Linked DNA regions of Homo sapiens. The protein of the gene in region 2 purifies or fractionates together with the protein of the main gene of each other region. This does not show direct contact. Each region holds a gene or a part of one and is shown on either strand. Other genes may lie near its edges.

Region 1 (3,500 bases), on a different chromosome or scaffold from region 2:
CCCTGAATCATCACTTGTTGAAATCGTATACATTGTAGAATCTCCATTTTGAATATCACTTTTTCTTAAACTTTTCTCTGATTCTGTCAAGCAGAAATCAATGTGATCCTGTGTCTTATTTGTATCGTTATTATAAAGTTTATCAGATCTGGCCTTGTAGTTAATGGAACACTTGCCTCTCTAATTAGTCTGAGAATTCTATGAAAGCAGAGACTGTGGCTCATTCAGTTCAACTTAGCAGTTTTGAAGCACCTACTGTGTGTGCATAAGAAGACTTCTGCCCTGAACAAGCTCAAAAATCTACTGGAAGAGACACACATAATACATAAATAGCCATTTAAATGTCATGTTCTCAATGGCTATTGAGCCCTGGGAGTGCCAGGGAGGGAATGATTTTAAATGGGAGATCTGGAAAGACTTCACAGAGGAGAAAGAATTTGAACTGGGCCTTGAAGGATGAGCCACTGATTCCAACATGTGGGACAGGGCCACATTCAGATCCTAAGTCTCCCCCTCCATCCAGCCACTAGACTGGGCATGTCTGCGTCCTGTGAGAAGGGCCCAACTCCTAGTTAGCAGAGAGGAGGAGAGCTAGCTATGCTAGGAAGTAGAGTCGGGGGTCAACCCGGGATGAGGACAGGAAACTCACATCAGTAACATTGACGACTCCTATTTGTGGGGCTGACAAGTCGATGTCAAACGTCTTCTCCCAGTATGGGACCAGCTGTAGAGAGATCAAAATACAGCAACTTAATAGATACTAGGGAGCACATGAATCCAGGAGGATGAGTGTGAGGGTCAGCCCAGGGATGGAGAGGGGACAGTGCGAACTGGCAGTGGATGGGGACAGGTCCACCTGTGAGGGCATCAAGGCAAGGGTAGAACTAAACAACAAAAGAGGAGAAATCCTAAAGGGAGAGAATCGGGAGGGTCAGCTGGGTGCACTGGCCCCTCTTTTCTGAGGAAAACTGGATAGGAAACCCTGTTCTGATCCTGGATCAGATCCTTGTGTTCAAGGTCAAGTCACTTCTCTCTGGCCCTCAGATCTTACATTTCTAAAATAAGGCAAGTATACCTGGTAAGTGCCAATGTTTCTCACGTTTCTCTTTGTTCTTTCAGTTACTCATTCAACAGCGAGTGCTAGGTGTTGGGAATGTAGCTGAGAACAAAATCATCTCCTGAAACAGGGAATCTCTGTGCTATGATTCTATGATTGAGTGTGTATACCCATGTGCAGGACTATTGTGCCTCACAACATTGGTTTTCTTTAGGAGTCAGCCCTAGCACCTGAGCTACCCATCCAGCCTCTGCTCTGGGAATGTGTGTGATGTCCGTCCTGTTTCCCCTTGCTCAGGATGCCCTCCATGCCAACAGTGCCCTTAAGCATGCAACACGCATACCCTCCCAGGGCCCCCCAGCTAGGAGGTGGGGATGGGACCTCTGAAACAAAGCCCTCACTAAGAAGATGTCACAGTCCAAGGCCCCACCTTAAGATAGCAGTGCCTGAGCTGTGCCTCTTACCAGGGGGAAGTCATCAGGGTCAATCCAGATGATGCTAAGATCTGGGTTTTCAGTGTTATCTTGGGCCACAGCCTTGAGAGTCTCTAAGAACTCGAAACCATCTTGGAGGGAACACAAGTACAAGGTATGAGGTGTGTAGAGAGGAAAGGGACCCAGGTGAAACAGGAGTGCAGAGCTACCTCCCTGCTCCCCAAGCTTCACATGTCTAGCCCTAGGCTGTTTGCAAACTCCCAGGAAAGCCTCCTAGTGAGGCCCATGCTCCAATAAACACACCCACCTCCCCCTGCCTTCCCTCCAGTCCAACCCGGTATTCCTCCCTCACCAGGATCAGCTTCCTCTGCGAAGGCCACAATGTGGATTCCATCCATATCATCCTCCTGTCAGGGGGTAAGAAGGAGAACAGGGTTTTGGAGAAGACCTTACTATACTCCCTGAAGTTGAGGAGCCCAGAACAGATCCTAGATGTTCATTGAACCTCAATTTTGTGGAAATCCAGCTTCAGGACCAGATATATTCTTTCGTTTTTTGGGGTTTGTTTTTTTTTGTTTTTGAGACAGAGTTTCACTCTGTCCCCCAGGGTAGAGTGCAATGGCGCGATCTCGGCTCACTGCAACCTCCGCCTCCCGGGTTCAAGCGATTCTCCTGCCTCAGCCTCCTGAGTAGCTGGGATTACAGCCATGCGCCACCACACCTGGCTAATTTTGTATTTTTAGTACAACATTGTTTCACCTTGTTGATCGGGCTGGTCTCAAACTCCTGACCTCAGATGATCTGCCTGCCTCAGCCTCCCAAAGTGCTGGGATTACAGGCGTGAGCCACTGCGCCTGGCCATATATATTCTTGTGATGGTGACCTTTTTCCAAGTGACACTCCTTTCAGCTCCAAGGCCCCACACTTCCTCTGATAATCCCTTTATCCCCAGGCTTGAGGCTCTTCCCTTGTCATCTTCAATTATGTCTGTCTCCCATTTCCTCACACATTCTTCAGTGTAGAAATCTTTCAGTTGCTGCTAGTGCACTGTTTTTTCTTTTTTCTTTTTTTTTGAGACGGAGTCTCACTCTGTCCCCCAGGCTGGTGTGCAGTGGCGGATCACTGCAAGCTCCGCCTCCTGGGTTCAAGCCATTCTCCTGCCTCAGCCTCCCAAGTAGCTGGGACTACAGGCGCCCGCCACCACACCCTGCTATTTTTTTTGTATTTTCAGTAGAGATGGGGTTTCACTGTGTTAGCCAGGATGGTCTCGATCTCCTGACCTCGTGATCCACCCACCTTGGCCTCCCAAAGTGCTGGGATTACAGGCATGAGCCACCACACCCAGCTGGTCAGTGCACTGTTTTTTCTAAAAATGGGCCTGAGGAGCAGTAGGGTGGGGTTTTTCTAGGACTTGAGTCTTCTGGCACCCATGCTTCCCTGAGGGCTTGACCCTGGCCAGGGGCACTCACCCAGGTCTCATACATACTCTCCGGCTTCAGTTTCCTCAGGGTTGATCTAGAAGAGACAGACAGAGTGTCATTACTCAGTGGGTTAGAAGGATGCCCCCTCCAGAGGGTCCTGTAGCAAAGGCTGCCTCTAGGTCAGGCCCAGGGCACAGACAGCTTGTAGCCTACAACAAAGCCATCTGGCAAGGCCTCAACTCTGGGCACCAGGCCCGGCTCATTGCATGGTTAAAGCGGTGGGAGAGGGGAGGGTGGGCAAAGGGACTGGAAGAGAGACTGGGGGAGAAAGGCAAGAACTGGACATCAGGATATTCATTAATTTATTCATTCATTCACTCACTCACTATGATTGAGTGCCCGATATGTTCTAAGCACTATGCTAGGTGCTGGGTACATACAGTTGAACCAGGCAAGCATGTTCCTGCCTTGATGAAGGGAGCCAGTAGTATGGGAGAGTAAGTACTGTATATACTGCAAGGGAGCTTGCAGTGATCCACCACTGCACGCTAGCCTGGGGGACAGAGTGATTGGATATTTCCAGCTGTG
Region 2 (4,399 bases):
GAGTCAGGTTCCCAGAGCCGGGAGGGGACACCTGGGAGTGAGTGAGGGAGGCATGGGCCCCCCCCGTGCTCCTGTGGCGCCCCCCCCAGGCCTTGGAGCCATCCGTGTATAGGGACAGCCCGGGCCCAGGGGGTCTGCTGGCTGCTGGGGGAGGGCTAAACCACAAGGCCAGCCCAGACAGTGACTCCAGCATCAACAGGGATGCCACCCCCACACGGGTGTGCCCTAAACCCCAGGAAATGGTCCTTGGGGAGCCCTGCCCATTGTACAGCTGGGAACATGGAGGCCCAGAGGCAAGGGCTGGCCCGGTCACCAGGCGCCCTGCTCCCACCCCTCGCGTCCTCCAGGTCTCAGCGGAAACCTCCCTCAGGTGTGCTCTCCCTGATCCTCCGTGTTCAAGGCCAGCTCCACCTGCAGCAGCCCCTCTTCTCTTTCCTGTGATTATCAGTGTCGCCGGGACCCACGGAGGGACCCCAGGGTGGGGATGTGCCACTGAGTGCATTGCTGTGACCAGACCCTGTCTGGCGGGGGCTTGGTGGAGCAACTGGGGGCCCCAGGGTGCAGGCGTTGTGCTCTCTGCTCATCCCCCACAGGCCTCCCCCACACCCATGAGGGCACTCACTGTGGCTCTGATGTTCCCCCCTGGGAGGCTCCACCGGGTCTCTTTTTTGGGGATGAGAGCAGTGCCCCAGGCCCGCCGTGCTACAGAGGTTTGTGGTGGGGACGTTTCAGTTGGCTGAACAAGGCAAGCCCCTCAGAGGCCCGGGGCTGAGGTCTCTGTTGAGCCCAGGATGAGGCCTGGGGCCAGTGTGGGGCAGTGGGTGGGTGGGGGGCACCCGGGCCTGGAGCTTCTGGGGGTCTCTAGCCTCACCTGGTCCTCCCGATGGCTGAAGTCAGTGACCAGGGGCACGGGCAATGGTTCCAGGTCCAAGCTGGCTATGTCAAAAATAGCTTGGGGGTTCCCAGGTGCCCTGTCAGGGTAGGCTAGTGTCTGTCTGGGGCCACTCCTGCTGCACACCAAGCCTTTGAGGCACAGAGGCTTAGAGACCCACAGATGCCTGACACCTCCCATCCCAGCGGGGCCCACCTGTAGGCAACCAGTAGCTCTTCATGCCTGCGGCTCAGATCCACCAGCCTCTTGTGGTAGCTGCGGGCAGCCCGGGCCAGCTGCTGCTCACGGCTGCGGTGCGCTGCCCGGATGTCCTCCAGAGTCGCCTCCAGGAATGTCCGGAGGGCCGTGGTGGCTGGCGCTTGGCCTGCACCATCTGCGTGCTCCTGGAGGCGGCGGGCTGGGTCCGCATGGGGCCCACCCCCCATCTTTTCCAACCATCCCCCCACCCCAGCAGGCTGAGCAGTGCCGGGGCCCTGGGGTCTCCCTGAAGCTATCCAGCACACCCAGGCCAGGCTTGGGCTCCCTAGGCCTCAGGGTGCTCCTGCAGGGCTCACCACTGCCTGCCAGGCGCAGTGTTGCAGCCGTAGGACGTACTCATCCTTCAGTTTCTTGAGCTGCAGCTGCAGCCGGGCATTTTCAGCCTCTGCCTGACGGAGCTGGCCTTGGCAGCTGCACAGCACCTGGGGTGGAAGCAGCCCTCCACCTGTGCCCTGAGAGTGGACCCCGGCTGAGCTTCTGGGGCCCCCACCCTCCAGGTCTCCAAGCAGTCAGGGCAGAGCCTCACCACAGCCTGTGTGGCCAGTCGCTGCCCGGCTGCCCTGGCCTCCTCTCGGGCTCCCTGCAGCTGCCGGCCCAGGGTTGCCCTGAAGACACGGGGGTGAGGCTCAGCAGGCCCACGATCAGGGGTTCTCTCTGCTCCAGGATGGGGCCCCAGGTGAGATGGCCACTCACACACGCGTCACCAGTGCCTGCTGCCGGGCCTCCTGATGCTCCAGCGCCCACTTCACTTCCCCCTGCAGCTGTGGGGCACACAGGGCTGGCTGGATGAGACCCTAGGCTTGGGGTCTCTGGTGCTGCCCTCTCCCCTGAGCTAGGTGGCTGCACACTCACGCCGCTCCCCAGCCTGTGCTGCTCATTCTCGGGGTTCATGGTGTTCTTGGGCTGCACCTGAATGGAAGGGAGGGCAGGGAAAGCTAAGGGGTGGGTGAGCCCCAGTTTCACTGAGGCCCCTGCTGAGGCTTCCCTCTGGCCTTTCCCAGCCAGGCTCTCCATATGCTCATGGTAACCTGGAATCTGTGGTCATCAGAGTGTCCAGGCACCTGGGCTTTGTGTCTGAGCTCTTGGGCTGCTGCCCGGGGATGCCTGGGGTCAGACTCCACTGGGACTGCACAGCCCTGGCTGGTGCCATCTCCTCGCAGCTCCAGCTCCAGTACCCGGCTCTCCAGCCGAAGGATCTGTGGGACAACTGGCATGAGCAGGTGCACCTGCCCGCGGGCCACCTGGGGTAGGTGAACATTCACCCGGTGCACGCTCAGGGGCGCGCAGCACTCAGAGGCAGGCTGAGACCCACAGATGCCATGTGCGTGTGCATGCCCATGCAGGGCACGTGTCCTGGGCCTGCACCCCCCGTCCCCCATGCACTGAGGCTGGTTCACACGGCTGCTCACCTCACTCTTCAGCTGGAAGATTTCAGCCTCATGCTGCTCATGTAGGTGGTGGGTTGTGATCTGAATGTCGACCAGCTCCTTGGAGATCTGTGGGTGGCCAGGTGAGAGGTGGCGTCTGTGGGCCCTGCTGGCACCCTCCCTCCTCACGAGCACGCTGGGGCCCCACACCCACCTGCAGCTGCTGCTCCTTATTGAGCGCTAGATCTGGTGGGACCTCTGCTTCCAAGCTGGTGGCCCACACTGCGGTGCCCCCAGGAGCTCCTGGCAGCCAGTCCTTGGCTCGTAGCACAACCTGGGGAGGTACCGCCACCCATTCCCCAGGTGGGTCCCAGGCTGGGCTGTGGCCCCACTCCCATGCAGTCACCAGTCCCGCCTCCCTGCCTGGCTGAGCTGTAAAAGTCCCTCTCCTGGCTGAAATTAGGCCCAGGGTGCAGGAACCTGCACCCTCCTGGCCTTTGGGGGAACGGGCAGACTTCAACCCCATGGCAGGAGCGGCAAGTCCCAGAGGACTCACATTCTCCACCCGCCGAGAGGGAGGTCCAGGCCTGGGGCCTGTGGTGGCTGCGTGCTCCATAGGCTAGGGAACCCTGGCCAGCTCCGAGCCCGGTGCTGCCTCCACGCCCGGCTTCCCCATGGCTGCTGCTGCCACTGGCACTGCTAAGTGCGTTGCCAAGGCCTCTGTTGGTCCCAGGTGACTCCCAGGGCACCGCCCACAGGGGCCGGCCAGACCGGTGGTTGCTGAGGAGGGAGGATAGCTCTTCCTCTCTCCATGCCTCCGTTTCCCCATCTGGGGAATGCGGCCCAGCGCCCCCTGCACATACCCTGTGCAGATGGAACCAGGTGCGTGAAAGCGCCCAGCCTGGGCGCAGCGGACGAGCACGCGGAACGGAGCGGCAGCCCGCCCGCAGGATGCCCTGAGCTACACTCGCTGGACACCTTCTGTGTACCTAGCAGTGCTGGCTGAGCCCCGGGACGGGGGAAGTATATCTCTGCACCTCTGGCCTGAGAAGAGGGGCGCAGACGTCCCCATCAGGGGCCGGAGAACTCGGAAACGACTGGCTCAGCCGGGGCGTCGGGAGGGCTTCCTGGAGGAGGTGCCAGCGCCGGGCGCGGCGGGGTCGGAGCGTGCGCGTGGCGCCCCACCGGGCACGCGCACCGCCGGCGGGCCTTGTGGTCTCATCGCGCGCAGGATCCGGGCCGGGCGGGGGCGGGGGCGGGGCGCGTCCGCGGAGGGGGGCGGTTGGCGGCTCCCGAGCCCAGCGCCGCGCTCAGTCCGGACCCCGTGACCGGCGGCCGAGGCCCCGCCTCCGTCAGTCTGTCCTTCGGGTCCTCAGCACAGCCGTGCCGGTGAGGCGGGCGGCGGGGGAACGCGGCTGTCCCGGGTCAGGGGTCTTGCGGCGGCAGGGCGGGGGGCCGAGGGGCGGGGCCTGGGAGGAAGGCGTGGCCTTTGGGGACTGGGGCTCGGACTGGGGGCGGAGCCGGGGCTGGTTGGGGACCGGCCGGGTTCCGCTCCTGCTGGAGCCCGGTGCGTGGAATTCCACGCGAGTGCCGGGGAGTTCCTGGGGAGCCGGGCTTCTCTTTTGGCCCCCAGCGTGTTGACCGAGCCCGCTTCGCACAGCCCTTCCTAGGGTGTGGAGAGCGGGCCCCGCCCTGAAGGGGCACCGTGGGCTGGGGGGCCTGTTTTGGAGCAGGCACCGGTGGCCGAGCTCCGTGACCATGAAGGTCAAGGTCATCCCCGTGCTCGAGGACAACTACATGTACCTGGTCATCGAGGAGCTCACGCGCGAGGCGGTGGCCGTGGACGTGGCTGTGCCCAAGAGGGTGAGGGCAGGCCGCGGGC

What was found. Proteins that work in one complex are often made in the same cells at the same time.
Region 1: the proteins of CCDC78 (region 2) and CASQ1 purify together in Homo sapiens (affinity purification with western blotting; one study listed by BioGRID). This does not show direct contact.

The regions. Positions count from the first base shown.
Region 1 is NC_000001.11:160,197,075-160,200,574, reverse strand, and holds part of CASQ1 (calsequestrin-1 precursor), read right to left. Parts: intron 3,007-3,500; coding exon 2,961-3,006; intron 1,899-2,960; coding exon 1,844-1,898; intron 1,623-1,843; coding exon 1,522-1,622; intron 725-1,521; coding exon 650-724; intron 1-649. UniProt on the Homo sapiens protein: Calsequestrin is a high-capacity, moderate affinity, calcium-binding protein and thus acts as an internal calcium store in muscle. Calcium ions are bound by clusters of acidic residues at the protein surface, often at the interface between subunits.
Region 2 is NC_000016.10:723,235-727,633, forward strand, and holds the start of CCDC78 (coiled-coil domain-containing protein 78), read right to left. Parts: upstream 3,210-4,399; 5' UTR 3,134-3,209; coding exon 3,074-3,133; coding exon of another isoform or gene 2,852-3,073; coding exon 2,732-2,851; exon of another isoform or gene 2,647-2,731; coding exon 2,560-2,646; coding exon of another isoform or gene 2,347-2,559; coding exon 2,179-2,346; intron 2,060-2,178; coding exon 2,003-2,059; coding exon of another isoform or gene 1,912-2,002; coding exon 1,844-1,911; coding exon of another isoform or gene 1,756-1,843; coding exon 1,677-1,755; coding exon of another isoform or gene 1,673-1,676; exon of another isoform or gene 1,573-1,672; coding exon 1,447-1,572; exon of another isoform or gene 1,276-1,446; coding exon 1,088-1,275; intron 972-1,087; coding exon 872-971; intron 703-871; coding exon 623-702; intron 1-622. Other genes in the region: HAGHL (hydroxyacylglutathione hydrolase-like protein), read left to right, coding at 4,276-4,380. UniProt on the Homo sapiens protein: Component of the deuterosome, a structure that promotes de novo centriole amplification in multiciliated cells that can generate more than 100 centrioles.